Linked DNA regions of Homo sapiens: region 1 is linked to region 2. The links come from fine-mapping of genetic effects on plasma protein levels. A gene starts in region 2. The other region holds a variant in brackets. All regions are shown on one strand. Distances are between the middles of the regions.

Region 1 (16,443 bases), 550 kb before region 2:
TCAAATTGCTTGTGGGGGTGTAAACAGATATCCATTTGGATAACAAGTTAGTAATATAAGTGTAATGGGCCCTAAAGGTGTTCATACCTCATATAAATCTTACGGTAATCTATCCTAAGGAAGTAATTCAAAAGACGAAAGCAAAAAAAAAAAGGTTTAAAGCCATCACAACTTCGTCTACAACAATGTATTGACAAAATCTAAATGTTCATCAATAGATGTGTGGCTAAGTAAAATAAGATGCACCCATTTAATAGAATATCATACAACCATTAAGAATGCTTACTAAGAGTTTATAACAACATGGGAAAATATTTATTAATATAAGTGGGAAAAAAAGTAGGATGTAAAACTGAATAAAAAGTATCACGGTTGCAAGAACAAAAAGCCTCCATTGCCTAGGCATGGAAAAGGATATGGGAGGAAATACGCCAACTGCTAATAGTGATTATTTATGGAAGCAGGAAATGTGGGTAAAATTTTCCCTGTTCTATATTTTCCAAACATCCTGTAATGAGTATATGTACTTTTATAATGGGAACATAAGATTTTATTGTGCTTTTGAAAAGCAAGTCAGTTGTATAAGTAAAATTCTAAAAGATATCTCTTTCAACAAACAATAGCAACTGGGTCATGGCTAATTCAAGGTGAAGCACATTTGTAAATATCAAATTTTCTAATCTAACATCCAGATCTGGGACATAGAAGAATCTGGCGGGCTGCCTGCTCGCAAAGCTTCTATCTCTGTCCAAAACACTGCACTTAAGAAGTTAAAGGAAGAGTCAGAGCTGTCAGCTTTAAGCCAGTAGATTCTAGGATGATTCAAATAGCTGTCATAGACACTCCATTTGCTAAAGCTCACTCACTGGAAGGGGATCTGCCACACAGGGCTGAAGAACAGACACACGGATGGACAGACATGGATTATATCGGACCCTGCTGCTTGCCAGCAATCATCCCCACTCACAGCATTTTCCTTTCTTGGCAAGTTTGTACACTTAAAAGCTACCAACTCTCGCTTTTTTACCCTGTTCAAGCAAAAAATTTTGAAGCAAGCCATCTGTGCCTGGAAATGAGCAGCAATCTAAGACCATATGCAAGTGCAGGGGCAGGGGCACAATTCCATTTGAGTGATGAGTTTATTGATAAATGTTCTAAGTGGCTGACTCTTGTTCAATTTTAAATAAAGCAACACTTGGGTATTTTAAATAGGTGAAACAGCATCAGCAGCAGGCAGCTTGTGATGAGCAAACCCAACGCCCATGTGCTTCACATAAGACATCTTAACAATTTTCATCACCATGGAAGCTTGTATGAGATGCACAGGGACAGAGCGTGGCTGAGATTCCCAGGGCTCAACCATGATATCAGCTCCTGTGTGACCTAGAGGATCACCCAGGGCAGTGGTAAGAGGCTGGAAAATGGCTCCTTCTAGAAAGATGTCTTAATTCAGTTCTGTCACCGATTTCCTCTCTTCCCACTGGAAGCTCTAGGTCTCTATTTTCTTAATCCAGTCAGGCAGGACATAGATCAAAGCAGTGAAAACTGAAGCCACTCAGCACTAGGGACAAAGATGAAAACGGGAGCAAAATTGAGGTGGCTCATTCAGTGCTCTAAACCAGTGAACTTCCACCATTTGAGACACTATTCCCCCAATATATGTATATTTCCATTATATACATGATCCCGTCAATCTATATATCAAATCTAAAGCTTTTCTTTCTTCCTGCCCTTCTTCCCCTCCCCTTTTCCCTTTCTCTCTCCCTTTTCCCTCCCTCCCTCCCTCCCTTCCTTCCCTAAACAATCACCTTGCACACATCCCTCTTTGGAAGACTGTTCTAAACACTCAAGTGGGTTATCAAATGGGTGCAGGAGTGAAGGGGTGGGAAAGGCAGTGCATTTCCTACCTTTACAGTCTTGCAGAGGGAAACCATCCTGAAAAGGATTTCCACATATGGTTGGTAGGTATCTTACATCACCATTCTCCGAAATCTATTTACCTACACTGGGCACTTGACTATACCCAGTCACACATCATATGCAGGGAAGTAAGGCTAGGCTTCATTAATGTGGATCCCATAAGCTAATTCAAACCAGGCTGGGCTAAGCCACACCTCGGTGCTGTGTATTAAGAAGAATGGGTCTGCTGAATAATCAGAGTGGAGAAAGTGGCAGCAGTCAGGGGGATGTTTAATTGCTGGAAGGGAATAGACTCTTTTCAGGCTCCATTTATAGCCAAGCAATCCATCTACCAATTACAGGCAAGTTCTTATCCAGACATTAAAGCAGGCAACTGCCTGTGTTGGAAATCAACCAAAACTGCTTATCTTCAGCCTTCCATAATTCCAGACCTTTTGCTGATCCGCCCTGGCTTCTCGCCTAATGCGTTTGCATTGCTTTTTCTGCTCCCACTTTTAGCCCCTAGAGTTTACCCTGATATCAAACACCCATGAAGACACACAGGCAAGGCAGTGAGCAGATCTTTGTTTTAACTGCTTGGGGAAGGAAGAAGCTGTTTGGTCTCTTGGGTCTGTATTTGGCCTGCTGAACATCACAGCTGCTGAGCCCTTGTGGATAGGATCCAGATATAACGACAACCCTGTTTCCCCCTTTGCATTTGAAATATTCCAGAAAGGGAGACTGTCATGAGAAGGGGATGGGGGAAGCTGCAAAGTTAGCCAATGCATTTTAAAAATGGAGACTCCATACCAAATTGGGCATTTCCATTGCAAATCAAGCATTCACTGGGCCCACCATTAGCCAAGCTCAGGATCCTGGCTAATTAAGTCAGTCTCCAGTGGGAAGCTATAGACTTAGGGACCACGGCTTAGCTCCAGTCTGAGAAGCTCACGGCTAAGGCTCTGCTTCATTCTTCATGCAATGTCTAGCAAATCAAAGCTAATGTGAGGAGCACAGCCACAGCTGACTGGGCCTCCCCTCAGTCATGTGCACTCAAAGCCCAGGGCACCACTGATTCACATGTCATTTCCCTGCATTAACATTCTGTCTGGGTTCTAGCTTCACACTCAACAAGTCTATTGCAAGCTATAAATCAGGAGACGAAGGACAGGGTGGTGTGCCAAGACATGTTCTCAGACATGGTGCACAGTGACAGAAACCATCTTAATAATGCGATCTTTAGAGACTCAAGGAAGATCGGACATGCTGTCATTTCTCCCTTGATGAGGAATCCTGCCAGGGAGAAGTGACTGATATCCCAATTCTTCAAAAATGCATCTTTCTAAAAATGTAGATGAAACTTACAAAAATAGCTTTGATGCTCCTCCAACTCAACTTTTTCCCCAGCACCCTGCCCCCACCGTGGCTTAAAAATACCACGCCAGGAATTTATATTTGGTTCAAAGTTGCTTAGCACATCGAGGCTAAATACAGCTTATACACCAATTTTGCTTCCAAAATTACTTACTTGTAAATGTATAAAACCGTTAACGGAATGATTTATAGTTTTACTTCAGTTCTTTCATTACTGATTTGCAGAGATCTCTCTAGGGGTGATTATTTTTGGATATTTCTAAGTCTGCGGACTGCACAACTCTCGATAGATGTTAACTCATTCTCAGAGAGCCTCATCGTAACTGAATTATGCATCTCATTCATTTAAACATTTAATGAACACCCATGAAGCATTAAGTACAGCAGGGCACACAAAGCTGACTAAGGCAAGGGCTTGTGTCCTCAAGAACTTACACTTGTTCTCAGTCATCTTGTAAGCTGGGAGATGTGTTGATACAGTGGCTAAATTTAGTGGCAAAATAAAACTTCCCTGGTCTGAAGCCCAGGTTGTATATGTCTACCAATGTATCTTACCGCTCTTCTGTAAGAGGAATTTGCCGGGACTGAAGTGGAGTTGGCCTCTGAAGATTGTTGTACTCCATCCATCCATCCATCCATCCATCCATCCCAAAATGAATCAACAGAATGTAGACTCCACAAGGGTAGGGATTTTTATCTGTTTCCCCCACATTTATAAACACATCTACAGATATGTATTTAGAAATATATCTACAGGTATGTATTTATAAATACATCATATATTTATATGATGGCCTGTCTGCTATTTGTAAAAGTTTGTATCTCACCCTGCTAGCAGGAAGCAGTTGCCAGAGCCTGATTTCTACTTGGAACAAAATCACTCTGAAGTTCCATTTCCTCATTTAGAAAATGGGGATAGTATTATAGATGCCATAGGATTCCTGGGAGGAATCAAAGGGGTAATATAAGAAATGTACTTTACACACAGTGCCTGGTACCCTAAAGCTCTTGACTAATGTGGAGTATCTTCCCCTCTCTGCTACAGGAAAGGGAAATCAGAAAGAATGGGAAGCCCTCACTGTGCACAGAAGGAGAGACGGGCATTCTGAGAGCTTCAAGATCCTGCTTCTGGCCAGGCGCGGTGGCTCACGCCTGTAATCCCAGCACTTTGGGAGGCTGAGGTGGGCAGATCACCTGAGGTCAGGCGTTCAAGACCAGCCTGGCCAACATGGTGAAACCCTATTTCTACTGAAAATACAGAAATTAGCTGGGTGTGGTTGCAGGTGCCTGTAATCCCAACTACTCGGGAGGGTGAGGCAGGAGAATCACTTGAACCTGGGAGGCGGAGGTTGCAGTGAGCCCAGATTGCGCCATTGCACTCCAGCCTGGGCAACAAGAGCGAAACTCTGTCCCTCCCCACGCCAAAAAAAAGATCCTGTTTCCATTTCGAGTTCTCACTAAGTCATTGTGTGACTTTGAGCTGGTCACTAACGCATTTTCAGTCCCGATTTCTTCTATGTGAAAATACTTTTTAAAACTGAAAACCAATATGAAAGGGTAAACGATACCTATGAAAAGAACCAGACAGCATTATTTTATTCAAAGATCCTCTCTGACAAGCAGAGTTCCTGGGTTGAACGATGGGCCAAAAATTTTTTAAGGGAAAAAACTGACCCCTGAGAGCCTCATTAAAAGAAAGATAAACTCCCAGGAACCATATTTTATTTTTTGCTGCAAGGCTAAATATGGGTTAAGAGGAAAAAATAACTGCTGGGATAAGCATTCATGTATCTTATAATTAAATATTTCAAGGAGGATTTGGTGCAACAGGGGTCGCTAAGCTGCCATTCACTCCCACGGGCCTTATCTCCTCTGGCTGGGAAATCACGCTGGCTTTCTGTGAGCGTGATTTTCCCCCAGGATTCACTGGGCCACGTCCCTCGAGGCTGGCCCACACAAAGGGCAGAGGGGACTGAGAACAAAGATGCGGTGCCTGCAATACGTCCCACAAAACAGCAAGCTGGAATTTTATCACGTTCACTTCACCAGGACGTTCATTCACCACACAGATTCAGGTTTATTCTTTGCATCTCAGGCAAGAACAGGGAAGGGAGATGCTTTTCTTTCTGTCAGACTGTGGCTTATCTGCCTCGCTCACAGCCAGTAAGGCCACGGATTTATAAATTTTCCTGCAACGGTCTTATCAACCACTAGCAATGTGCAGCAACGTGGGACTGAGTGTTTTCAAGGGGGTCCCAACAAAAGCCCTGCGGCTCTGTGTTGCTGATGAGTTGCCGGAGGACTCACTACTGGGCAGGGAACATAAGACTCAGGCTTGGGATGGAAGGAGAGGAAGGAACCGTCCTGGCCCTCCAGGGTAGGGGTGGTTATTCTGTGGGCAAAGGTCATAGGCCTTTGCCACCTTGATTCTTGTCCCCTGAGTTCTCCTTTTTTTTTGAGGGCCTCGCTCTGTTGCCAGGCTGGAGTGCAGTGGCATGATCTGGGCTTACTGCAGCCTCAACCTCCCAAGCTCAAGCAATCCTCCCACCTCAGCTTCCCATGTAGCTGGGACTACAGGAGCATGTCACCACATCTGGCTTTTTTTTTTTTTTTTTTTTTTTTAGTTTCTGTAAAGACGGTGTTTTACTATGTTGACCAGGCTGGTCTTGAACTCCTGGCCTCAAGTGATCCTTCTGCCTTGGCTTCCCCTGGGATTACAGCAGTGAGCCACCGCATCTGGCTCCTTTTTCTTTTTAGAGACAGGGTCTGACTCTGTTGCTCAGGCTGGAGTCCAGTGGCGTGCTCACGGCTCACCGCAGAATCAACCTCCCGAGCTCAGGTGATCCTCCCACCTCGGCTTCTCCAGTAGCTGGGACTACAGGCAAACACCACCATACCCAGCAAGTTTTTTAAAATTTTTATATAGATGGGGGTCTCACTATGTTGCCCAGGCTGGTCTCAAATTCCTGGGCTCAAGCGATGCTTCGGCCTTCGTGTCCTAAGTGCTGGGATTACAGCCATGAACGACCACACCCGGCCAAGTTCTTTTTCAATGGAATTGTCAACATGTATCACTGTCACTATCTCCTTATCTCACTGTTCTTCTTCTTCCTCATTTCTATTCAAATCTGAGTAACAGTTCAGCCCTTCCTTTAATTTCCACAATTTAAGAAAGCAGCCAACACGTACAAAATTACAATTAGAAAAACTGGTGTTCTCTTGCACAGTAGGGCAGCTATAGTTAATAATAATGTATTGTATATTTCAAAATAGCTAGACCTTTCTGAATGTAGTCACCAAAAGAAATGACACACATATAAGGTGATGGATGTGCCAATTACCCTGATTTGATCATTACACAACGTATACATGGATTACAACACATTGTACCCTGTAAATATGTACAATTATTACGTATCAATTAAAAAAAATAAAAGACAGTTGTAGTAAGAAGAGGCTATCATTTTAACAGCATTAATTCATTCATTTATTCATTCCACAAAGTCTTCAGTGAGCATCTGTCACACCACAGGCACTGCTCCAGCTGATGGGATATGATGATATACAGAACAGAAATTCCTGCCCTCACAGAATTTACATGGTAGTGGGCAGAGACAGAGAGTAGATATAATAAAAAGTTATAGGGTATATTGTTTGGGAGAAGATAATAAATGCTGTGGCAAAAAAAAAAAAAAAAAAGCCCAGAACATGGTAAGTGGAACGAAGAGGGAGCGGGGTTGGTGATGGGTTGCAATTTTAAACAGGGGGTGGGGATGGGGATGGGGTTCTCCTTGAGAGGGTGGCACCTGATAAAGAGCTGAAGGTGGACCCTTGGGTATATGGAAGACAGGTGTTCTAAGTGAACAGAACAGCAAGTGCAAAGATCCTGGGGTGAGAGAGTCTTTGGTGCATTTGAGGAAGAGCAAGGGGGCTTTTTCCTTAAAATTCAATGAAACTCAAAGGGAATTACCCCCGGACAGTGACGTGCCTGGAACTCTCACAGCTGAGGCAGCTCTCATAACTCATGTGCTGAGGCTATCTTCATAGACTATCCCACTGGAATGTTTTTTCAACATCAGGTCTCAACCAAATAGTATAATAAGTACAGAAACTAACATAGTGGGTCAGGGCCAGCATAAAACGAAAAGAAGGGAATAGAATGTATTAAAAAATACCTGCGTCAGTGTGCTGAATGTAGAATGACTTCCTATCTGTATATTTGTGATATAAAAGTAGTTCTTATTGTAGGTTGGGGTCCAAATTGCTTAACAGCTACTAACCAACAGGTTACCTTCTACTGAGTCCCCAACTTGCCTCCTTGTAGCAGTGCCTTCTGCTCCCAGAACCTGGAAGCATCTACCCGTGACAGATCTAGATTCCTTATAATCTAAGCTCAAAAAGAGGCTCAGAGAGAAAAAGATGTTTCCTCAACCACCAGACCTTGCCTGTCTCAGCAACAACTGAAATGGAGACACTCCGCTCCCTCCAAAAGACAGACACCCTGCTTCCCACCCAGGGGCTATATCTTCCTGTGATGGTCCCAATGGCTCCTACTCCACTAGAATTTTAAGACACTCAAAACAGAGACCCGCAAAATAGTAGGGGCTCCCTTCCCTTATCATGACCCCCAATCCACAGAGTGGAGTTTAACTCATGGGCAGTTTGCTGGAAAATAACTCCCTGGCCTAACCAATGTTCATCTGTTCTCTGGGCCAAGAACCCCATGGTTCATTTGGGACTTTAAAAACTGACTAAATAAAAAGAAATTTTAAAAATCAACAAAAGTGCAACAGAACCACTCACAAGCTGCAATGTGGGAAACTCTTCAATTAACTCCCTCTCAAGTTTTTCTCTTCTGACAAGACCAAGTTT[G/T]TCTGGCATCCCCCAGAGGTCTCCCTTTATCTGGACAACTCATTTTGAGTTTTTGGACTACATCCTGCACTAAGCAGGAAATTATTAATGTTCCCGTTTAAAGGCATGAGGGGGCAGAGATCCTCTATGATGGTTTCGGGGGTGCAGGAAACTGTATACAATCTGGAGACCCCATCAGCCCCTTACAGCATTACTGGGAGCATTCTGAATGGGGTCCTCTCTTTCCAGCAGGAGACCAAAAGATTGCCCTTAATAGAATTGTTTAAATTGCCTAAAATTGCTGCTTCTATTCCAGGCTGAAAATTACAGCCCTTACGCTGTTTCCCATCCTCTCCCCAGGGTTACTCAGTGCCCCAGAGGAGATCTGTACTAACAACATCATCAACAAAACCTGAATGTACTTTGTGTGGAGAAAAATATTTGCAGCTTTTCAACCAGATCCGAAAAGGCAGTGACTGACATACACACGTTCTCCCAAATGAATTCAGATTTTCCTTTTTTTTTGGCATGACAAAACAAATTACCAGCTTGATTTATGTTGCCTTCTGAAATGTTACAAATCAAATGCTAAAAATCTCTGAAACCATATCATGCTGAAGATGATGAATGCTGATCTTCCTTCTTTGTCATTTTCTGCCAGCTGGGTGGGTGCCATGAGGAGGGGAGGGGATGATGAAGAAGTTATTGTTGCCAAATAATGCCACATCAGGGTGTGAGTGTTGAGACAGTCATTTCCTTACCTTAACTCCCCTCTAAGAGAAGGCTGTGTGTGGGTAAACAAACAAAACCCAATCTGTGTATATTTCAAGGACGTAGATCTTCTGAAAACTGCTGTTTACTGCAGTGAGACAGCACTGCCTTGGGAGACCCAACTTCTTTCAGCTCATGCTAACAATGGCAAATGGGTGGACCTGATCCAAGTGGCCCTGTACTGCCCCATCCATGTTCTGCCAAGGCACCTGGCCCTACCCAGGGTCCTGCTGGGCAGAGCTGGCTATACGAACAAACTTGGGCTTTGAGTTTGCAGTGACAATGTGTATGTGCAAACAGCTCTTCAGTTGGGGATCGTGCCACTCCAAAGGAATCACAAGCTGCTTTGGATTCAATCTTGAAGCCTCAACCAAGACTGCCAACTACTGGCGGTCTTTTTTATCCCTTCAGGTGCTTAGCTGTTGATGAGGTTATACAATTTCCACTCAGTACGTTCTTCTCAACGAAAGCAAAGGACTTCTGACACATCGCAAGGCTCTACCTCGAATCAGCAGAGTCAATCTCTTGTATGGAGTCTCTAAAAACTGCTCCCTGGGTGATTCTAATGTGCAACTAGGATTGAGAACCACTAAAGAAATGGTGAGGCAGAACATGACTCATCTAAGAACATAATTTCCCAGCTCAAAGCTCTTTCCTCCACAGAGCCCTGCAGGTGGCCACATGCTACTATTGCTGGCTCAGCTTCTTAAAGGCAGGGGGAAGGCAGGCCCAGGACTTTTAAGGACCAAGACTAGGCTCCAACAGAGGATTTTCTAGATAGGCGCATCCCACTCTAGTTTCCATTGAAAAAAATCTTGCTACGCACCTACTATGAGCCAGGCGGGTACCCCTGGGAATAACAGGGGTGAACAAGAGGCCCCTGCTGTATCCTAAAGTGATGGATAACTATGTTCTTGAACTAGGCTAAGTGCTTTGCATTCTCTCATTGTCTCATTTAATCCTTACCACTAGTCTGTGAAGTACGTATTATTATCCTTATTTTACAGAGGAAGAAACTAAGGCTCAGAAACATTAAGCCACTTGCTCAAGGTCACACAGCTGGGAAATAACACAAGTCTGACTTGTTCCAGGCACGGAGGCCAGCGTGGGGAGAAAACAGGGAGCAAAGATGAGCTGGGGAACAGACGCGGAAGTCAATATAACTATGACTTCAGCGGGCTCTCTCCAAACAAAGTTTTAGATGAAATTCTTTAAACAAGAAGGAAGAAAATAATTTGGAATTTCTGGCAACATTTTGAGGCAGAGCTTCAAAGGACCCGGATAAATAATGAATGTCACTGAAAGGCCACAGAGCAGAGGGGCAGAATCACATGCTCGCCATGCCAAGAGCTGCTGAAGAAAGAAAATACTTGACAGCGTGATCTGTGGGTTGTTAACAGCATCTGAAAATCTTTCTAGGTCAGCAGATTTCCTAGACAGCTGTGATCCACTCTGGGGAGACTGTCAGCCATTGATTAATTCCTAATCAATGAGAAAGCAAATGATGGCAAATGAACCAGCCTGAACTGGAAAGATTGTGGGTCTGGGGTAAAAGGCCATCCTCTTCCCAGCAGAATTCAAAGTAAGGGCAAGGGTGAGAGGGTGGAAAACAGGGAAATGGGGAAGAGGAGGAGCTGCCCAAGGAAAGAGGACAGGAAGGGAGAGAGAGAAGCAGACAGACAGATGGACTGGGCCTAAAGACAGCATGAGCTCCTGGGAGAGGGACTTGTGGTAGAGGCCAGGGGAGACTGCCTGGGGTCACCTGGTGGTTGGTTTGTCCATGATGGAAAATTTTGTCTCAAATGAGGCTGTCATTAGGATGCACATGGATGTCCCTCTGACATAAGTTCCAAGAAAATTAACCAATAGGAACTGAATGATAAGACATGAAACAGATTCCTAATTAAGTTACCTGACTCCAGACTGACTGCAGCTGCAGGTTCTGAAATGGGTTTGCATGGGAGGCTACAGGCAGTATGGAATGGGGGAAAATAACGGGGTTTTTGGTCAATTAAGTTCAGGAAACACAGGTTAGACAACAACAAACAATTTCTTTTCCCTACGACTTCTCTAAACCTCTGTTGTGATTTCTAAGATTGGGAAAGTGCCTCCCAAATTCATGTGACCACAGGCGGAGCTGCTTGTGGATTTAGGGTTCTAAGGAACATGCTTTAGGAAAGCTACTTGGGTACAAAGGGAATAAGTGGGGTCCAAGAGCCCCTAGGCTGTGCCACCTGGGGTCTAGTCATCTCTTGGACACTAACAGTGGGTCACCATTTACCTGTCCTGGCTCACCCGCAGGCTGGGTACATCAGTGGTGGTAGTATCATGGGCACATTCTTCAAATTTAAGTCCCCCAGATGTTTAAAGGTGTGACTTACTTTCAGTCGGTGTGGCATTCTCTGAGCTCAAAATTGGGACTCTTTAAGAATGCCAGAATGCGAGAGAACATTCTGGATGAACTCATCTCTTTACAAAAAGAAGAACAGAGGCCGAGGAAGTCAAGCAGTTTATGCCAAAGTCTCTGGGACAACTCAGTGGTTGAGACACAACTGGAACCCGAGGCTTCTGGCCTTCAGTCTGGGATGAAGGTGCCTCTCCAACTCCCCCACACCCCACTGAAGGCACAATTCCAACCAATGTTTAAAAACTTAGAAGAACAGTATCCTTGAACTGTTGGAGAGGTGGTAAATTCTACTTTCCCATGGCCCGCCTACCTCTTGTTAGTCTATCGATGACACTTGCACATGATTTATCCTGTTAAAAAAAAACATTAACAAGCAAAGCAAGCTAGAGAAACCCCCTAATGGCAGGAATTTAAACATTTGCCCACCACTAGAGCAAATAAATATGCACATAGCTGCATTCCTCCCTTCTCCTTTGTTCAAGAAGCAGAAAAAAATAAGGCCAAAAGAGAGCACTTGGGAAATGGGTCACTGGGATTGCAAAAAGGGATGTTCCACTTAGCCATTCAAAATGTGTCTTGCTAATTAAGAACATGTACTTGGTAACAGGGTCTACCTTTATGACAAATTTACAGACAGATCCAGAAATAGATCAACCAAGGTAATCCAGAGACAAGCCTCAATGTCCTAAGAGAGGGAGGGGTGCCAACTGACCCAGCAAAAGGTCTGGGAAAGCAGAGATACCCCCAACTGTGTTCAATTAAAAGTTCTCTCCCACAGCAACCAGAGCCAGCCAGTGCTCAGACAGAAACTTATATGGAATTTACTCATCTTGCTTGACAATAATCTCCGGTCCCTCCTGGGCTCAAGTGCTTTCTGCAGCAATGTTAGGTGGCATTTATTCACTCCTGAAGTATACATTCAACAAATATTTGCTGCAGGAGGACCTGTTCTGAGAAGTGGGGATACCACATCTACAACTCAGAGTTCCTATGCCCATGGAGCACATCCTGGTCAAGCACCCCGACTATGCTGGGCATCTCTCGGCGTCCTCCAAGAACCCGAAGCCATTAAGTGTTACTAACCCCTTTGTTGGAGATCCTGAGGCTCAGAGTGAGAAAATAACTTGCCACAAATCCATGGTAAATGGCAGATTCAGGAGTGGAACCCAGGTGAGCAGGACCTCAGAGTATTCATCCACAAACCTTAATCATCCCTGCCTCAATTAAGAAAGGAGACTGCTTGATTGTACCCTTGACTGAAAGCTTCCTCTCCCTCTTTGTTGGAGGTCCCCAAGAGCACCCCAATTGTGAAGATTTGCTAAGAGGACTCACAGGACTCAGCATATACTTGTACTCACAGGCACAATGTATTAGAGCAAAAGGTTACAGAGCAAAAATAGCATGGAAAAAGGTGCATGGAGTAAAGTCTGGGGGAAACCAGGTGCAAGCTGTCAAGCGTCCCAACTATTTATCCTAAAACAGACCTGCTATTTCAACTTTTTTCTGCACACCTTTCTGTTAGAAAAGCTGATCTGTGCAAATGGCCAAAGGGAGTTGGAAGCAGACAAAGCCAGAAGTATAGATGAAACCCTCCCTGAAAGAAGAATGGATGAATTTGTAAAACAGACTATATGGAGGATTTTTTTGGTGGGAGTGAATAGGGACACGGGTAGGGGCTGGGTGATTTCATTATGAAAGAGGTTTGGAAAGGGGAAAGCACTGGCACCAGCATCAGAGGACCTAAGGCTCTGTTTGACTTAAGGTCAATTCCTATCGCTAACGAGCTGTGTGACTGTGGCCAAGTCACTTAACCTCTCTGGTTTTCTCATCTGTAAAATGAGACGAAAGCTGAATTAGATAAACCTCTAATGGTCTTTCTGTCTCTGATAGCATCTGGTTTTATAACTGACTAGAGATTTTCTTTAAAATGGAAAGATTCCCTGGTGAATTTAGAAAATGACTCAATTCCACACAGCTTTCAGGAGCACGTGTATCACAAAGTGAGACTCATCTATGGATTCTTTAGCTAAAGGAAAAGGAAAGTGTGTGTTGGAGGGAAAGAGAGCATTTCTCAGCCAAGTGGCCAATTTGCGGTTTCAGTTCCCTTAGGAGGCGTTTGGAAATTCAGCATTCCTTGGTTCTACCAGTTTTTACCTCACTCAGGAAAAGGGAGTTGGATGGGCTGGTTTGGGAAGCTGGTGGTGGTCACAGAAGTCACTGCAGACACTTTGGGGTAATTTTCTCCAAGTCATCCAGCTAAAGTGTTGGGGTCAAGTCTATGAAGCTCTCTGGTAGCCCCAGCTCATGATCTAGCATTTCCTTGTAGTGGTACTAAGAGACAAGACAATAGTACTCAGTGGGCTGGGAGGAACTGTTTATTTTCCTTCCTTTTATTCTATTGATTGATTGTAAAGTCTAGCCTGCTTGGTAGAATTCATGCTAGCGCCAGGGTCTCTACTACAGACACTGATGTGTAACTGGCACTAGACAGGACTGGGGATTTTGACCAATATACATTTATCAAGCTCAATGGAGGAGGTGGAAGACTAAAAACAATTCAAAGTGGGATCCCGCCCTCACGGAACTTAGCATCTATTAAGGAGGGAGCGGAGTGCCATGGAAAGACCATGGGCTTTGGAAAGAGACCTGAGTTGACTACAGCCCAGCCCAATTGTTTACTAGCTATGTGGCCCTGGGCAAGAAACTTAACATTTGTAGCCTTAGTTTCCTTCTTCGTAAAATGGCGGTAACAGAGTCCAACTGTTAGGGCTGAGATTATCTATATGAAGGTCTTGGCACAGTGGCCAGCAGTGCCTCTCTTCTGTATTCGATGTAAATGGCACCCCCTGAAGTTTTGCGATGTGCACCCCTGGCCCATCTTACTACACAATACTGTGTATTGTGTAGTAAGTGCTCAATACACAGTAGCTGCTATTATGACTGTCTCTAATGTTACCATGTGGGTACATCAGAGCTGGGATAGAATTCAGGTCATTCCCAGATATGAGCATGATTCACTGAAACAGCACCATGTGAATTACAATTTGAACAACTGGAAACCTCTGGCCTGGCTAGACTGGTGAGGGCGTTCTAGACAGACAGAAAAGTGTGCCTGAAAGGTGGGAAACCAAGGATTGTTCAGAGGTGCCTATGGGTGCATGTGGTGAACAGATCAGACCTCGGAGAACTTTCCATGTCCAGTAAGAGATTCAGCTTTATGCTACTGGCAATGAGGGGCTATTGTGTGTTTGAACACAGACAGCAAGACAAGCAGGACTGGGCTTTCAGTGACAAGGACTGGAGGTCAGGAAGGCTCATTAGAAAGCTACTGCAAAAGCAGGAGGTAGAGAGAAGGCCAGAATTTGGGCATGGGCATTCAGCTTCAACAAGGGATCTTTCTTTCTTTCTTTCCTTTTTAATTTTTTATTTATTTATTTTTTTGAAACAGAGTCTTGCTCTGTTGCCCAGGCTGGAGTGCAGTGGCTCAATCTTGGCTCACGGCAACCTCTGCCTCCTGGGTTCACACCATTCTCCTGCCTCAGCCTCCCAAGTAGCTGGGACTACAGGCGCCCGCCACCACGCCCGGCTAATTTTTTTTGTATTTTTAGTAGAGATGGGGTTTCACTGTGTTAGCCAGGATGGTCTTGCCTTTTTTATTTTTTTTTAAAGAGACAAGGTCTCGCTCTACCACCCACGCTGGAGTGCACTGGTACAATTATAACACACGGCAGCCTGGGACTCCTGGGTGCAAGTGATCCTCCCACCTCAGCCTCCTGGGTAGCTGGGACTACAGGCGTGTGGTACCACGCCTGGCTAATTTTTAATTTTTTTGTAGAGATGAGGTCTCACTTTGTTGCCCTGGCTGTTCTCAAACTCCTGGCCCCAAGTGATCCTGCTGCCTCAGCCTCCCAAAGTGTTGAGATTACACGTGTGAGCCACTGTGCCTGCCTTCAACAGGGAATCTTTAAAGAGTAATATTCATGCCTCATTTATGGAACAAATATTGTTCTCAGTTCTCAGATACCGGTGTCCAAGACAGACACAGCCACTAGGAGGCAACATTGTTCTTCCCTAGAGATGGGACACCACACAGTCCCCAGGTAAACGATACCCCCTGCAGCCTGGTGGATAGTTCAAGAAAGCTGTTTTGGGGAATGAAAAAGGACACCCCACCTTCCACCTCATCCTACCACACTCCCTATTCCACCGTTCACGCCTGCCCTGGCCTGGTGAATGCCAAAGCAATGCTGTAAGAGAGACCCAGGGCTTTAGCCCTCAATTCAGCCACATTCATGAGTCATGAGTCATGAGGAACATGAGTCATGAGGAACAGTCATGAGGAACACATTCATGAGTCATGAGGAACAGACGCAGAGCCTCAATGGGGCCCCAAGTCAGCAAGGGATGCACCTGCCCCAGCACTTCTGGAAGCTCTGGCACTGTGTTCAGTGCCCTCATACCCTGGTCACCAAGCCCCAGGAGATGGTTTTCTACCCAATTACCAACTGAGACAAACGTGGCAGGACACTACAGCGCTGGGAGCCACAGACCCTGGCCACCAGCCCAGAAGCAGACTCACAGCTCTGACATTTTCAACAGGTAGATAGGAGCAGCGAACAGATTCAAACTCCCTCTCATCCTCATCTCTCACCAGCTGGACAACACTGCTGTGCAGGGACAGCGTCTCAGACACAGACGGTGCTTCTTGAATCATTTGTCTTTCTGGGGCCTTCCAAGTTGGGTTATTTTGTCCTATCCTTTCTAGCGACTGCATACTGATACTTTCTTTCCCCTTTTTCTCTTGCTTCCTGCCAACTTAACTTTATCCAGGATGGTCTTTGCATTTGTTGTGCCCACAACTCTCCAACCGCTATTCTTTTGTAGATTTTATCTGACAGATTTCATTTTACCTTCTGCACAGGCATCTGACCATCCCCTGACGTCTGATGTCTTCTCCCCTCCCAGGCCTGAGTGCCTGATCATTCCCTCAAGAATCTTGCAGAAAGGCCATCTTCCCTGGCTACTCCCAAATGGAGTTCAAAGCTCCCCTTTTCTGCTACCTTGGTACTCAACAGAACTCATCATGTGGGCATGAGTCTGTCCCTCTTCTTAGATAAGGAGTTTCCAGACGCTGTGGCCAG
Region 2 (16,275 bases):
GTTGGGCAGCCAGCGTGTCAGGCTCACCACGCTGCCCTCGGTCCAGTGCGCAGCGCGCAGCTCCTCCTGCACCTGCGCCCACTGCGCGCCCCGAGCCTCCACCCGAGCCAGTGCCAGCGGCGGCACGTGGCGCTGGAGGCCCAGCAGGCGCGCCAGATAGTAAGACAGGGCCTCGCCCTGAATCTGCTCCGGGTTGATGCCGTAGCGCACGCAGGCGCGGGTGCCGTCGGCAAAACGGGCCAGTCGGTTGGAGCTGCGCCCGCAACCCCCGCGCTCCAGGGCCACCATCCGGGCGCCGCGAGCCGCCTCCAGCCACGCCGCCGCCTGGGCCTCCGAAAAGCCCGGGGGCACCTGCTCCTCCAGGCCGCGGCTCCAGAAGACGCCCCCGTGCACCGCGGCGCTCTCCTCCGGCCGGGGCTGCCTGGCTGACACGTGCCACCTGGGCTCGCTCCGGGACTGCCGGGGCGGGCCGTCCGCGCCGGCCGCCAGGGTGAGCAGCGCCCGGAAAGTTTTCAGGGAGCCGCCGCGGGCGTCCCACGCCAGGGGCGGGGGCAGAGGGAAGCGAGGCGCGGGCGCGGGGCCGCCGCTCCGGGCCGGGCGCCGTGGGAGTCGGTCTTCGGGCGGCCGGGAGGCGGGCAGCTCGGTCCGCGGCGGCAGGAGCCCTCCCCACAGCGCCAGCAGCGAGCCCAGCGCCAGCAGCCAGAGCCCCGCGGTGGCGGCGGCGCCCCGCATCCTCCTGCCCATGCTCCCGCGGCTGTGCCGGTGCGCCGCCGCCGCTTCAAGCCGAGCCCAGGCACCCGGGTCCCGGCGGCGAGGCGGGCCCGGCAGTTTGTGGGCTCCGGGGCTTCGGGCGCTTCGGCCCCATCGCGGCCGCGGGGCGCTGCGGGGCTCTGTCCGGCGCTCCGCCCGGCGCTGGGAACTCGAGTCCCCGCCGCTTCCCAGCTGCTTTTGTATTTCGCTGTGAGACCCTCCGGTGGGCGCGATTCACAGGCGCCCGGACCACGTGGGAGCCAGGGGGATCCCCCTCCCCCTCCTCCGCCTCCGCTCCCCGCCCCCCGCTCCCCCGCCCCCTTCCTCTCCTCTTCCACTTAAAGCGGCGATGGCTCCTTCCGAGAGGGAGAGGCGGCCCCACACTCGGTCCGGGACTTGGGGGCCTGGAGGAAGCCGGACTGGCTGCGCCCGCGCCGGGGCGTAGGAGGGGGTGGCGCAGAGCCGGAGTCTGGGGCCTGGCGGGAGGGACGCGCCCTGGGCCCTCGCGGGGGTGTCTTGGTCGCCGGGTCCCTTTGCCTAGGCAGCGCGGGTCTCCTGCAAACTTCAGACAGATTTCCACCTCTTTCCGAGCTCCGCCAGGCTAGGATCAGGCAGGGTCCCTTTGCTTTCTCAGTTTCTGTCTGGGTGATTCACGCTGCTTTATGTAAATCTCTGGGAATGTCTCCGAGCCACAGAGGATGTGATTCCAGCGGAAAGAGGAACCCGCTGTAGCCAACAACTTTGAACCGACACTCCCTTTTCCGAGCTCGCACATCAGCACCAATCAGTATTGGCCGCTCTGCCTTTCCCAACGGACTCCCAGGGAATGAAGCCTCGCTGTGCACGTGCCCCTTGAACACCTAGGCCATCTCCCATTCATTCATGCATCCATTCAACACAGCGACTGCCCCTCAGTTCTGGTTCTGCTTACCAGAAGCAAAATCCACAGATCCGGGTCCCAGTGCTGCTGAAATTTACATTCCAGTGGGACTCTCAGGTTGCTAAGAGAGATTATAGCCATCCAACCTCGTGTTGGGGAGAGGGGAGTCAGGGACGACTTTTCGAAAGAAATGATACCGTTTTGTCCATGAGGAAACTGAGGCACAGAGAAGGGATGGGTGTTGCTCAGGATTGCACAATTAGCAAGGGGCGAAGCTAAAAGTCAAACTCAGGTCTCCTGGCCGCATGCACTTGATTTTCCCTCCATTAAGAAAGATCAGTATTTTTTTTTTAATCAAGTCAGCATTCTCAAGTTTGAAATTCACTGTCATTTGACCACTTTGTTCCCCAAATGTGATTTTTCAATTAAAAGGATTTTTCAAATGGAAAGGAAAAAAACCTCAATCCCATACTGCATTTGATTTACTGCTTTTACGATTTAAGGGAAAAAGAAATGGTGGTGGTGGTGGGGGAGGGAGGTGGTGAAGGAGCAAAGAAAACAAAATGAACAACCTCTTCACCCCAACACATCTTCCAGCCACCTCTGGGTTACATTTACCAGGAAAACTTGGATGCCAGTCGGCCCTCCCTTACCTCTCTGTATCAGAATGAGTCCCAGATCCACACTGAGATTCCCAGGGTAGACACAAGATCAGGGGCATGGTGGAATCCACCTCTCAAAGGCCAGAGTTTGAAATCTGTTTCCTTACATGGTGTGTATCTTTTCTCTCCTTTCATCTTCCCATCAGGTGCACATGGGGGTTTTCAACTGGACTACCTCATCAGTTGGCACTGATTATGTTTTATTCTCCAAAGAAAAAACGTTCTAGGGTGATAGAGCGTTCCAGGGTGATAAAGCAGACACTCTTATGTTTATGGCTGAGCAGAGGCATCAAAAAACCACATTTGGAGTATTGCAGCACTGACCCAGGATACAGTCAAGTGTTTTCACTGGTGTGGTTAAGTACATACTGGATGAACTGTTGAATCTGTTCCCAACCACATGGTGGCTATACCATGCCATTTTATAACTCTTATCTGATAATGAGATTACTATGGCTCCCATATGGTTGCATCGAAATATATTAATCCATTCAAAGGTCTTATTTTTTTGGCCTATGTAAGCCCCTCCTCATCTTTCCCTAGCAGGCAGGGACTATGTCTTATTTTTTTATTTCTTATACCACCTAACATAGTATATTACACTAAATAAGCACTCAATAAATTTAATTTTTTTGTCTTTTGGTTTAACTTCTACTGGGATATATATGTATTTATTTGAAAGGCAGCCTCTTTCAGCGTGGGCAAACTATAAGCAAGATCGCCACCTAGTGGGCATAAGTAGAGTATCATCTAATTGGAGAAAAGTAGACATTTTTAACTGGATGATTAATTGTTGAAGTTAAATTCGGAAGACTATTAAATGTCTACTGTGTACCAAGCTATGTCCTAGGGGATATGGAGAAATCCAAAGTAGTTGGGGTCTCTGTCTTTTTGGCTGCTAACAAAAGCTGTAAGTAACTACCATTGTAAACTTCCTGGGGAGTCTGTCTTGTCCATTGTTTTATGGCTGCCTGGGCACAATGCCTGGCACTTAGTGTGTGTTCAACAACAATTTGCTGAATACATCGTTAGAATGCTAATGAGATGCAAGTAGCATGTATCAAGTTTTTTTAAATTAAATACCTTACTACTAAATAATGCAAAACAATTTTGTCCAACGGTTGTGAGTTATTGTTCAGCTGATTAAAGAATACAAAATAAGAACTTCCACTCATTTGAAAAAGAAAAAATATTGGTGAGGGTTTTGCATGATAGATGTGAGGGGAAGCACATGATTTTAATTCTGGGAGGGCTGGCTTCAAATCCAGAGACTAGAAATCCTGGAATCTCCTAACCATATTGCTGGTACTGATGAAAAAAACCCAGACTTAAATAAATTGACTAAGATCGTACACCTCATAAGATGGACTAATTTTATCATTGAGCAGCCCTTTGCCTATAGCCATAGGACTGAATGCATCATGTACCAGAACAGGATGCATTAATTTGTTAAACTTTAACAAATTAATTGAAATGCAGAAATACAGAAAACCAAAGGAACAAACACTGCCCCTTCCTCAAAGTGGAATGCAGTTTTGGAATGGTATTTGATTATTTGAGACAGGGTTTAAAAACATGCCTCTGTTTAGCTGTTAGATGAAAATACTCCCATTCTCCTTTATTTTCTGGACTGAGGACACTCCCCTGCCACCTGTGGCCAAACCACTTTGGCTCTGTGGGGTAGCATAGTTAATCACCTCAGTCACTTCTGCCCTCTGGCAGTTGCTTGGGGATGAGAAATCCATTTGCACTTTTATGACTTTCTTAATACTCCTTAGAATTTATCCCTGAGCCTGAACTTCCAATATCTTCAAACTTTTCCACAGTCCTGTTTGAAGAATGATCTGGTTCATGTAATGGTGCCTCCTGGGGGAAAGAGAGGAGGTGGAGTTGAGGGTTGGAAGCAGGGGAGGAGGCTTGGAATTGGAATATTTTCCAAGTCTGGCATTAGCACTTTCTGGCTTGTTCCTTGTTCTAGTTATTTACTTTCTGTGAGTTTCAGTTTCAGAACCTGAGAAATAAGTTAATAAATCCTTCCTAACTCACAGGGTTGTCATGCAGCTCAAGTGAAATATTAATAATAACCACAGCATCAGTGGCAGCAAACACTTATTGAACTCTTATTATGGGCTCGGTGTGGAGCTAAACCCTGCATGTGCTTTATCTCATGAAACCCCCCCAAAAGTATTATTATACCCACTTTACAGATGGGGAAGTGGAAGCTTAGCCAATCAGTGGAATGAGGTCATGCAGCAAGGAAGTGGCAGGGCTGCGATTCCAAAATGATGGGGACCAAACCTTTTGTAAATTATAAACTGCTAGGGAAATGTCAGGTGCAGAAATTATTACATTAAATCAAAATAGATTCAACTGAGATGAAATTTTGGTTTCATGTGTTCTCTGGGGTTTGTTCCCAAGTGAAATGGTTAAGAGTGTGAACTGTCAAGCCAGATTGTCTCATTAAAACCCAGTCCTGCCACTTACCAGGCATGTGACTTCGGGTAAGTTACTTAACCCCTTTGTGCCTCAGTGTATATATCTGTAAAATGCAATAAGAACAGTATTACTAGTATTACTAACAAAAATTATAACAATATACAATATCTCATGATTACTAGTAATAGGAACAAATCTTATAGATTATTGTGATGATTAAATTAGTGCTTATATTTAAAGTGCTTAAAAGAGCATCTAAGTGTTCACTATAGTATAGCTGTTGTTGTTCTTTTTCCTTTCTATTTCCTTTCTATTTCACTGTTTCAGTGCTCAGATGGGGATGTCTTCCTTCTCTTGTTGCTGTCCTCCACCAAGTCTCACTTGGTCTTGAGAGACCTAATACAAGTGGTGTTCCAGCTCAATGCACCTGCTTTATGCCTGAAATGGTGTCTTTCCTGATAATTTTGCAATATTTCTTCCCCATGGAGCTGGACCACCTGGCTTCTACCAAGGTTCCCAGTGTAACTCTTGTTAAATGCCCAGAGCCTCCAGCCAGCCTCGGGCAGACAGCTTCTGGCTTCCTCTCACTAGTCTGCCTCCTTCAATCCTGACCTTTTCTGGATCTCCTGAGTTATAAGCCCCTGGAAAAGACAGAGGCGTCCAAATGTACCCTTCCACGTGCTTCTACAAAAAGGAAGAGAGGGGACAAAAGATGTCAGAGATGAGTATAATATTCCATGGAAGTGGTATGACTCCTACATTGGCCACTACTCTTTGACCCTGGGGAGTTTTCTAACCCCCTGGGCTATAATTTTATTATGTATGTATCTCTGTTACGGACTGAATGTTTGTGTTCCTCCTTGCACCATAAATTAATATGTTGAGATCATAACTCCCAATATGGTGGCATTAGGAGGTAGGGCCTTTGGGAGGTGATCAAATCATGAGGGTAGAGCCCTCATAAATGAGATTAGTGTCCTTATAAAAGAGACCCCAGTAAGCTCTCCAGCTCTGTTTTCATCATGTGAGGACCCAGAAAGAATACCGCTGCCTATGAGCAAGGAAGAGTAGCCCCACTAGACACCCAGTCTTCTGGCACCTTGATCCTGGACCTCCCAACCTCTCTCTCTCTGTCTCTCTCTCTCTATATGTAGATAGATAGATAGATATCTCTATCTATCTATCTATCTATCTATCTATCTATCTATCTATCATCTATCTATCTATGTATCTATCTATATATTTTTTTTTGAGGCAGAGTCTTGCTCTATCACCCAGGCTGGAGTACAGTGGCACAATCTCGGCTCACTGCAACCTACACTGATTTTCTTGCCTCAGCCAATTTTCTTGCCTCAGCCTCTCGAGTAGCTGGGATTACAGGTGTGTGCCACCACAATTACGTCCGGCTAATTTTTTTTATTTTTAGTTTTATTTTTGGTAGAGATGGGGTTTCTCCATGTTGGCCAGGCAGGTCTCAAACTCCTGGCCTCAAATGATCCCCCCGCCTTGGCCTCTCAGAGTGCTGGGATTACAGGTGTGATCCCCTGCGCCCGCTCAAATGTTTGTTGTTTAAACTACCCCAGCCAATGGCGCTCTGTTATAGTAAGCCTGAACTAAGCCATTCCCTCCTTCCCGTCTTTTCTACCCTAGGGTACATTATGTTTCTGCTTGAGGATCAGTTTCCTTTTCTTGGTATCTCTATTTGACTATGATCTGGGTCTTCCAAAAATTGCTTAACTGATCTCATTCTCACATTCTTGGCTGTCAAGGGTGGGTATATTGATGCCTGGTTCCAGATAAATCCTACTGGAGAGCTAGAAGGAGGTCAGGAAATAGAGTAGTCTTTGAATGCAATGAACCTATCTGCTTGAACAAGTCCCACTTTTAAGAACACATTGTGTTTCTGGAAAGAAAGTCATGGTTGACAAGAACCTTGTAAATTGTGATGAGACACATTTTTACGATTCTCTTTATTCCACCTAGCTCTCTTTTGGACCTGCTTTGCAAAGGTTCCTGCAGACACTAGTGTTAAAGACTCGAATCTAAAGGTTGGAGCACCGGTGAATCAATTTAGTAAATTTTAGAGCAGTCGCCAACACATATTTCAGTCCTGGTTACAGAGTATGATGGTAAGAATTCTGGACTGGGCATTTGGAGACATGAATTTCTCTACTATAATTTAGTTCCACAGACATTTGTTGCCCACATGGTAAAGGCCAAAGGACTGAGGAATAAGTGATTGGGCATCAGATCTTCCTTCACACCTGCATCAGGGAACGTTTGTTGTCTTCTTTTCATCCTCCGCCTTCCCTTCCTCCTTTTTGGCAGGTCTCTACCTTCATCCTCTGTGCCTTTAACCTTTAAGGGATGCTGAATCCTGTTTGGGCTGAACCAGTCATGGTGCTTTCAATTCCTTGCAGTGACTGGTTAAGGCTTAGGCATGTGAGACCATTCTGGCTAGTGAATGTTACGGGGGAAGCCCAGTGGAAGGTTTCTGGAAAAGTTGTCTGTACTCTTACAGAGACACAAGAAAGATATGGCACCTTTTCTGCATGGTTCAGGCTGGATGGGAGGCCTGGAACTGAGGAAGTCATGTTAATGCAAGGGGAACTACGTTCACACAATCAGGAAGGCAGAGTAGAGAGATGGAAGGAACCTGGATCCTTGCTGATGTCACCAAGCCCCCAAGTTAATCAACTCTGGAAATGCCCTTCCTCTAGATTTCCTGTGGTTTAAGCTACTCTGAGTTGGGGTTTCTGTTGTTTGCAGCCCAAATTCTCCTGAATGACATACCCTTTCACATCAGAGCTTACAAACTAAGGAAGGAGGCTGACTTATAAACAAACAGATCTCTTCCATCACAACTGGGCTACTGGGAAAGTAGTGTGGTTTAATGTTTTGGAACATGTGCTCTGCAGCCAGGCTGAGTCTTGCACCTATGAGCTGTACCATCTTGGGAAAATCACTTAGCCTCTCCGGACCACTTAACTCATCTGTAGAATGGAGATGGTAACTGTACCTGCCTCATTATTGTATGGATAAAATGTACCTTAAGCACTTAGAAAGGACTCAATAAATATCAATTGCTGTAGATATTATGGAAATAGAAAGCACACGCAGGAGCATAGAATAGGGAGTGACTGATTCTGCCAGGGAAGTCCAGGAAGGCTTCACCGAGGAGGCAGGTGTTAAGATGAGTCTTGAAGGGGAAGTGGAGATTTACAGGTGGGGTGGGAGATTCAGCCAAGTAGAGGGAACAGTGTGTGAGCTCAACAGCTGTGTGCCCACAGGCAGATTACCACATCTTTCAGGAGCTCAATTTCTTTGTCCTTGAAAGCCCTTGAGTGTGTTGAATTAGCTTAATCCTCTTTTGGCAAAAGAAGTAAATCTCAGGCCCCCGCCCTAGATTGAGAGCCACCTCATTAGAGACCCTCCATGGCCCCTTCATCAATAACCTATGATTGTTGGTCTCAACCCACCCTGAAAAAATTCACTCAACAAACACTCCCACTAAAAGAGGTGACTCTCGTTCTTCTTTGTTGATTTCTATTCTTCGTTGCCACCCAGAGATTTATCCAGTGCACAATTAGTGATTCTGTGCCTCCTCAGCTTTCCAAGGCCCCACATATCTCATCAGTCAGATAGATGCTGAAGCTTAATTAAGCTTGTAAAGCTTTCTGATTTCCTCAGATGAAAGGTAGTTCATAAGTACCAGGTTTTATTTTGGTAGCTCCTGCCAAGGGTTATTATAAATAGGACTTAGTGCGACGTGGCTAAGCTCTTAGGGTGATAATGTGTCAAGACCAATTGAGGCTGCCGAAAGCAGAGATATTATCATAATGGTTCTATCATAGGCGGTGGGTGTTAATGGAAGTAGCTGTGAAAAAAAGAAAGTACTGCAGCCAGCAAAGCCCGGATCGAGATGGTTGCAAGTGAAATATCGGCTGCTCATGGGATCTCCATCATAATCATTAACCATATTAGCCTTGGAGCCATTCTTCTGCCATCTCTCCTAGACCAGGCTCACACTCAAATAAAAAATGGATGCTTTAACTCCAAATGAAAATATATTCCTTTGCTGCTTTTTAAAATCCATTTACATTAAAATGATGGCCAGCAGGTAAGTAATTTGTAACTGGGGGCTTACTGCAGTGCAGAAAAGTGGCTTCGGAATAGTGAGTCACCTAAGTGGGAGACCAGGAGACTTCCAGACCCAGGAAAAGCCATTGCTGCTGGACTGAAAAATGGCTGGCAAGAGTAGGAAAAGGCAAGGGATAACTTACAGACACTCACTGATGGGGAATAGTGAGCGTAGAGGTAGTTTGATATTTCCACAATCAGGTGAGTGAAAAAACAGAAGTTCTTAGGTAATGCAGCCCTGGTTAAGAATGTGTTAGCTTCCAGGGCCCTAGCTTTGGTTGCCGAAAATCAGCTTTTTGCATTCCATAGGCAGACAACATCATTTGATGATGTTGGTGATGGCAGTGATGGTGATGATCATGATGATAATAATGATGTACCCTGTTGTCAGTTGAAGCCACCTGCTTTTTTGAGATCCAATTGGACTTAGCCTAAATTCCTATTTGTATTCCTATTGTATGGTCTCGGTGGCAGGGAGGTTCAAAGACTTTCCCCTGTTCCTGAGAGTCCCTGGAGCTTTGTGCCTCAAACTTCTGTCTGTGTCCACTTCCTGCTTTCACAGTTGTGACTTTGGCTCCAACACACATCAGCATGGGTGTGAAGTTCACTGCCTTAACCACCCCCCCGCCTGCATTTGGACCAAGATATCATGAGTTCATTGACTTTCCTGAAGATCTGGTGGGGCTCGCTGAGGAGAGGTCACTGCACTGCGCAAGGTCTTCATCCATGCAGCTGTCTTCTCTTTCCTTTCTCTCTCCCGCCCGTGTGGGGAAACAGGTGAAACTTTCCTCTTACATCATGTAAAACAGGGCTACTCCCATTCAGGATCCATTCAGGATCTCAGCTTCTAGTTCAGGTCAAGGTTTTTCTAGGGATCAAATTGGGGGGTCCCTGAAGGGATTTCTGGTAGACACAATTTAACATTTTCAGCATACTTTCTACACGTCAGGCAGTGTGCTGAGAGTTTTCCAAGCACTTAATCTTTAAGATCCTCCCACAACACCGCAAGATCTTATTTTCCCATTTCATTCATGGGAAAAAGGAGCATCATTAGAGTAAGCCTCAGACCAGAAGACTTCTGCTATTGGGTAAAAGAGGAACCCCAACTCTTGTCTGCCAAAAGACCAAGGTTATGTTAACTACAATGCCACTTGGCTTCCTGGGGCTGAGAAACACTGGTGAATTAGCAAAGGGGACTCTTACAGGGGAATTGCCTCTCTCCTTAGTACCTGCACGTCGTCTTTCTCAAGGCTGTTTGATATAGGTACTACCTGCATCCTCATCTCTGCTGAATGATTAAGCCCAAGCCCATTTACTGGGAGGTACGTTGCAGTACAGAAAGCTCCACAGGATTAATACCTTATTGAGTGGGATGTGATTGATCCAGAAAGAGGAGGGTTGGCCTGGCAATCCTGGAAATGGCACTGTCTCTGTCTGGGGAGCAGATCAGCCTGGACAAGAATGGCAATGCAAGAACACCTGCTGTCATTTCTCCTCTGGTTTTGCCCCTCCCATGAGCAAACTCTGAGATTGCCCCAGGGAAGATGCCTCTGTGGGGCTGGGTGTGTTTGTTTCACACCACACATTGAGACTTGATGCTGAATGTCTCCTTCCCTTTCATTTCACCTGAAGAATAAAAGAAGAAAGAAACTTTAAAGGCCACTTCTTGCTGCTTGAGTTTAAAAAATGGCTACATTTTACAATCTCGGCCTGAGGAATAGCAGGACAAAAGCTGAGGAATAACAATGGTTATTATCTAGCTCCTTGCAGTTTGGCCGAGCAGTTTCACAGGCTGATCTCATTGGGTTTTCAAAACAACCTGCTAGGGAGGGGTAGTAAGGCAGGGGTTAGTTACTGTTCCTACTGATGAAGAAGAAAGCTGAGCTTCAGAGAGTTGCGTGATGAGCCCTAGGTTCTCAGCTAGTTCCTGACACACCAAGAACATGAATGCACTTTACCTGAGTTTCACCTCAGAGGTTTTACAGGACACTCCGTCTTTGCCCAGTGTGACTCACATCTGCAGATTCTATCTCTATCTCATGTTTTCCACATAGTTACAGGTGCATGTTACCTGTATGTTACAATGGCTGCTAAAACTCCAATAATGAGGACAGAAAAAAGAAACCAAGGATTGCTAAAAAGCTAGAATATTTAGACACTCCTTTCCCATTCCATGGTGCTTTCTCTCTCTTTTTTGAGACAGAGTCTTGCTCCATCACCCAGGCTGGAGTGCAGTGGTGTGATCTCGGCTCACTGCAACCTCCATTTCCCTGGTTTAAGTGATTGTCATGCCTCAGCTTCCCAAGTAGCTGGGACTACAAGCATGTGCCACCACACCCTGCTAATGTTTGTATTTTTTTTTTTGGTAGAAACAGGGTTTCACCGTGTTGGTCAGGCTGGTCTTGAACTCCTGGCCTCAAGTGACCTGCCTGCGTTGGACTCTTCTATCTCTGTTACTAGCACTTATGAAAGAAAGGAAGTGGGGAAGGAAAATGAGCAAGAAAAGTTAGGGAAAAGAGAGAGAGATTATTTTTAAATACTTTTCTCTGCTTACCTGTTTCAATAAGCAGAAGAGCTAACCAAAGAAGTCAGAGAAAGAAAGTGCAGGTAATCACTGATTATTGACTTATTTGCTGAGTGAAATTTTTTTGGGGGAAAAAGATTATACAACAACTCTGAGATAGTTAACAGGAAATGGTAACAAGCAAAAAGCTTCCTCCTGTTTTTCTGCTCCTGTGCATGATACCCCCTCTCACTCAGGGCAAAATCAAGTCAGCAGATCAAAGCATGATGTTAAACTTTGTCTTCATCTCTCCCCATTGGGAGGGCCATTTAGTTAGGGGTGACAACAGGTCTGCATGGCTTTTTAGGATAAGTGAGAGTAGCTGGACTATAGAAGTCTTCCCACCTTGGTTTTCTCATTTGTAAAAATAGGATATTAATGCTTGCCTTGCGGAAGTATTACAAGAATTCAATGAGATTATGGGATTAGAGCAAGTGAAAAGTTATAATGCAGTTTCTGGCATATAGTAGGCACTCAATAAATATTAAAAATCACACATGAAGCTGCACAGAATGTCTTGGAGGACACACACTAACCTGTTAATGGCATTACTCCCAAGAAGATGTTTGTGTGTGGGGGGCACTTTCACTTTTATACTGCATACGTTTTTACTTTATAACTCATTGTGGGAATGATATGTAAGTATTAATGGATGTGTGGATGCTCACGTTAAGAGTTATGATCAGATAGAGAGTACTAATGTGACATTTTTGTACATCTGTCTGTGTGATTGTGAAATCTGTTTTTTGTGGCTTTCTTTTGAGACAGGGTCTCGCTCTGTCACCCAGGCTGGAGTGCAGTGGAGCAATCATAGCTCACTGCAGCCTCGAACTCCTGGGCTCAAGGGATCCTCCAGCCTCAGCCTCTCAAGTAGCTGGGAGTACAGGCACATGCCACCATGCCCAGCTAAGTTTTTAATTTTTTTGTAGAGACGTGGTCTCAATTTGTTGCCCAGGCTGGTCTTGAACTCCTGGGCTCAAGCGATCTTCCCACCTTGGCCTCTCACTCCTGGGATTACAGGCATGAGCCACTGTGCCCAGGTTGATTGCAAAATTTATACTCACTACTAGTAACAGCATCAATAGAAGCATCAATGGCACCAGCAAACACCAGAATTGGCGGCCCTGGGTATGTAAACAGGAGCGCCTTTGATCAAGGGTTGTGGGTATAAGATGTCTCAGCTACAGGCACCTTCCATTCAAGCTTTAATATTCCAGGAAGGAGGAATCTGATTAGTCTATTTTAGGACCAGGTTTCCAGCATCGGCTCATCCAGACTTTAGTATGTAAGGGAACAGTTCTGTGCTGGACTGTGATTCTGCACATGTCCATCCCAACAATTTTGTGTTGTTTGATTTTTTTAAAAAGTTATAATCTTGCATTTCTTTGAAAATAATAACGTGAAACCTCTAACAATGGATAAAGCAAGTAGAGCTATACTGTAAGATCTCGACAAAATGTGTTTTATGCATCCTTTTACAAGGAACCAGCAGGATTCATCATTCATGTGCTTGGTGATACATCGCAGTGACACGTCTGCCCTGGGTCTGAATAAATGTTGATTATGATGGCAAACACACCCACACAACAATAACAACACTTGTCTTCTTGACTCCAATGGTTACCAGATCCAGAATTTCCATAAATTTGTTTTAGTGCTGCCCCTCCGGTTAGAAAGGGAATTTGAGACCTTTATTAGGGTAAAGAAAAGTAATAGAGGATCTTTTGATTTTTCTATCACTAGCTGTCATTTTACAGCTGTCATTTGGGAGGCAGAGAATATGAAGCATACAGAAGGCACACAAAGTATAATCTGTACGTGTGCATATGTGTGTGCATGTGCGTGTGTGTGTGAAAGACAGAGAGAGAGACAAACATGTCATTGCCCTGGGGCAGACTGATTTAGGGCTTTTCTAAGGCGAGCTCAAATCCAGACTGCATTTTCTATGTGGACCATCCGTGTTTCCCAGCAAAGAGGCACCCAGCCAAGGCCCAAGAGGTTGAGGATAAAGTGAGAAGCAGAGAGCTTAGCCAGTTTAGGGGGGGAGGAGGAATGTTCTGTGTTCTCTGTAATGCTTCCTGGCAACATCTGCGCCACAGAGGACTTGCTCAGCTAGCTCCCCTCCGGTCAGCCTGTAAGAGTCCTTTCTAGTGGCAATAAATCCTGCCCTCTGCCGCCCACCCATTCCTTGTGATTTGTTTTTTTTTTCTTTGGAAGTGGAGTTGGGCAGTTGCTGGGGAAGAGATCAGAAATTACTTATTGGAAGGCAGAAGTCACATCTCTAACAACCAGGGATAGACTAATAACGGATACCAGTTACCGAGTCTTGCTACATGCCAGGCAGCTCACATAGCCTCACAAACCCTTTCAGGTGGGTTTTATAAGCCCCATTTACAGATGAGCAAACCAAGCTTCAGAGACTTGTAAATTGCTTAAGATGATAGGACTCTTAAATGCTAAGGCCAGATTCAAACCTGGGCCAGTGTGTCTTCAGGTCACCCGGTCCTGACCACCCATCTGTATTGGAAAGCTAGCTTGAAAGGACCCAAGACTGGCAGCTTTGGTACCCATCCCTGGCTGCTCTGGGACAGGTCACAGAACTGTTGAGTAGTCATAGTCTTGACTACAACAGATTGGAAATTATGATATAATATTTGCTCCCAGAACCAGCATGGTATTAACATCATTTTAAGCCAAGCCTTTGAGTCAGCTCTTTTGTGTATGGTTTGGGAGAACAAAGCACCAGGAACTCTCAGGAGTTCATGCCCAGCCATGGACCCTCTGAGGAGTACTCTTTCTGAGACACCATGGAAAGCTTTTTTTTCGCATTTGCAGCTTCAGATGCTGGTGTTCTACCCTCTAAAGTTGCTGAAACAGGACCATTAGGCGGGATAGTTTTATTGGAATTTAAAATATTGTGAATTTTGTGCTAACTGCCTCTGGCTATAACTGGAGTAAAAGTGACATTGTGTCAGACAATAGCATGCACTAATTAAGTCAGTGGAGAATGTAACAACAGAAATATCACAGCAACAAAATTAGAGTTGTATTCCAATTGTGTTCAGAGTGCTCCCCCAGAAGGGCAGTTGAGTTTAAACTTCCATTATTTTGAGTGAATGTGGCCCTAAGGAATCATGTAGGGATGGTTTTTTATGTGATCTCAGGGCAGTCCCTCTCTTGTACTATAGTAACTTTTATAAAGCTATAGTGTGCTTTGTTGAAAAAGAAAAGTAAAAAATATATTTATTCCTTGAAAAAAGTCTGAGAGGATACATATCTAACTGTTGACATACCTTACCTTGGGAAAAGGAAATTTGAAGAGAAAGGACTTTCTTCTTTTTCTTTTTCAAAAAATTTCTTATATTCCTGGACATCTATCTAAATTCATTATACTCAGCATATATTTTTGAGCAGACTGAAATGATCAAGGGAATGCTCTTAAATGAATAATTCATGCTTTATGGCATCAGATGGTCAAAAGGCAGATAGATAGGTGACTGTTAAGAAGTTGCCCCAATGGAGCTGGAATTAAGGTAGCAAGGGTGTGGGCTTGGGTGGCAGCAGTGGAGATGGAAAGGAAGGGAGGGGAGTTGAGTGCCATTAAAAACCAGGGGCCAGGGGTATCACCTGCATTTGTTTAAGGCTTGCAAAGTGGCACTGTTTGCATGAGGATGGAGCCTAGATACTGGTGCCGACCTATGGAGGGATCTAAAGGAGCTAGAATTCTAATTATCAGTGAATGGGTGGGTCGGTGGTGGATGGATGGACAAATGAATGAGTTCCTTCATTTAAGCGTCCTTTCTTTTTTTTTTTTAAGACGGAGTCTCACTCTGTCGCCGAGGCTGGAGTGCAGTGGCGCCATCTCGGCTCACTGCAGGCTCCGCCTCCCGAGTTCACGCGATTCTCCTACCTCAGCCTTCCCAGTAGCTGGGACTATAGGCGCCCGCGACCACGCCCGGCTATTTTTTTTTGTATTTTTTAAGTAGAGACGGGGTTTCGCCGTGTTAGCCAGGACGGTCTCGATCTCCTGACCTCGTGATCCGCCCGTCTTGGCCTCCCAAAGTGCTGGGATTACAGGCGTGAGCCACCGCGCCTGGCCTTAAGCATCCTTTCTTTTAGGTTCAGGCTGAACTCCTTTAGAAGTCTAATTAGGTCCTCGGTTAGGGCAGTATTTCTCATATTATTCCCTTGACCTGGGGTGTTCTTATCCCAGCCTTAGGGAATTAAGGCCTTTCTAAGGTCTGGGCCATTTCTGGATGCCTCATTGGGTCACTTAAGTCTTGTTTTTTTTTTTTTTTTTAAACTATAAGAATCTCACTTCCAGATTGGTTAAACAATATAGGAGATAGATTTAAGGTACAAGTACCTAGAAGGTCTTCTGGGTTGGGTTGATTTAAGGGCTCACCAATGTCATCCAGCGCTAGTTTCTTTCAAGCTTCCTGTTATGCTTTTCATACAGCAGCAGCCTGGCTTCCTCATGGTGGCAAAATGGATGCAGCAGTTCCAGCCTTTACTTACACATTATCTAGAAGGAGATAGAGAAATATTTTTTGCCCCTAGAAGTTCCTTGAAAAAGCTCAGGTCCGTTCTCACCCATTCAAATTGCGTCTCATGCTGATACTTGACTGAATCCCTTTGACTGGAGAATGTTGATTGGCTTAGGTTATCTGAGCAAAGCATACTTATGGGGGCAGTGGTGGTGGGATCACCATATCTCACCCATATGGCAGATACACAATGCGGGTGTGTGTGGAGGGGATATTAGGTAGCTGTCAGGCTCTAGTTTAGGATAATAAAGCAGGCATGACTGGTGTTTGTAGGTGTATGGGGGAGTGGATAAAGTT

What was found. PIP is the posterior inclusion probability: the model's chance that the variant is causal. Protein levels are from the aptamer-based SomaScan assay of Sun 2018.
Region 1: its variant is fine-mapped to the plasma level of the FJX1 protein (Sun 2018, PIP 0.95).

What each region holds. Positions count from the first base shown.
Region 1 is chr11:36,149,055-36,165,497 of GRCh38, reverse strand. The region is part of intron 4 of LDLRAD3 (low density lipoprotein receptor class A domain containing 3); the gene reads right to left. Among named protein-coding and RNA genes, the nearest start is that of COMMD9, 130 kb to the left of the region's middle. RefSeq lists enhancers at 11,972-12,141, 15,449-15,628, 15,508-16,081, 15,021-16,220. The variant G/T (reference allele first, on the strand shown) is at 8,146.
Region 2 is chr11:35,603,106-35,619,380 of GRCh38, reverse strand. FJX1 (four-jointed box kinase 1) reads right to left here and starts at 921. Exons shown (of 1, transcript NM_014344.4): 1 at 1-921. The coding sequence starts at 744. RefSeq lists silencers at 174-443, 454-713, 734-803, 901-1,062, 884-1,213 and 1 more and an enhancer at 1-601.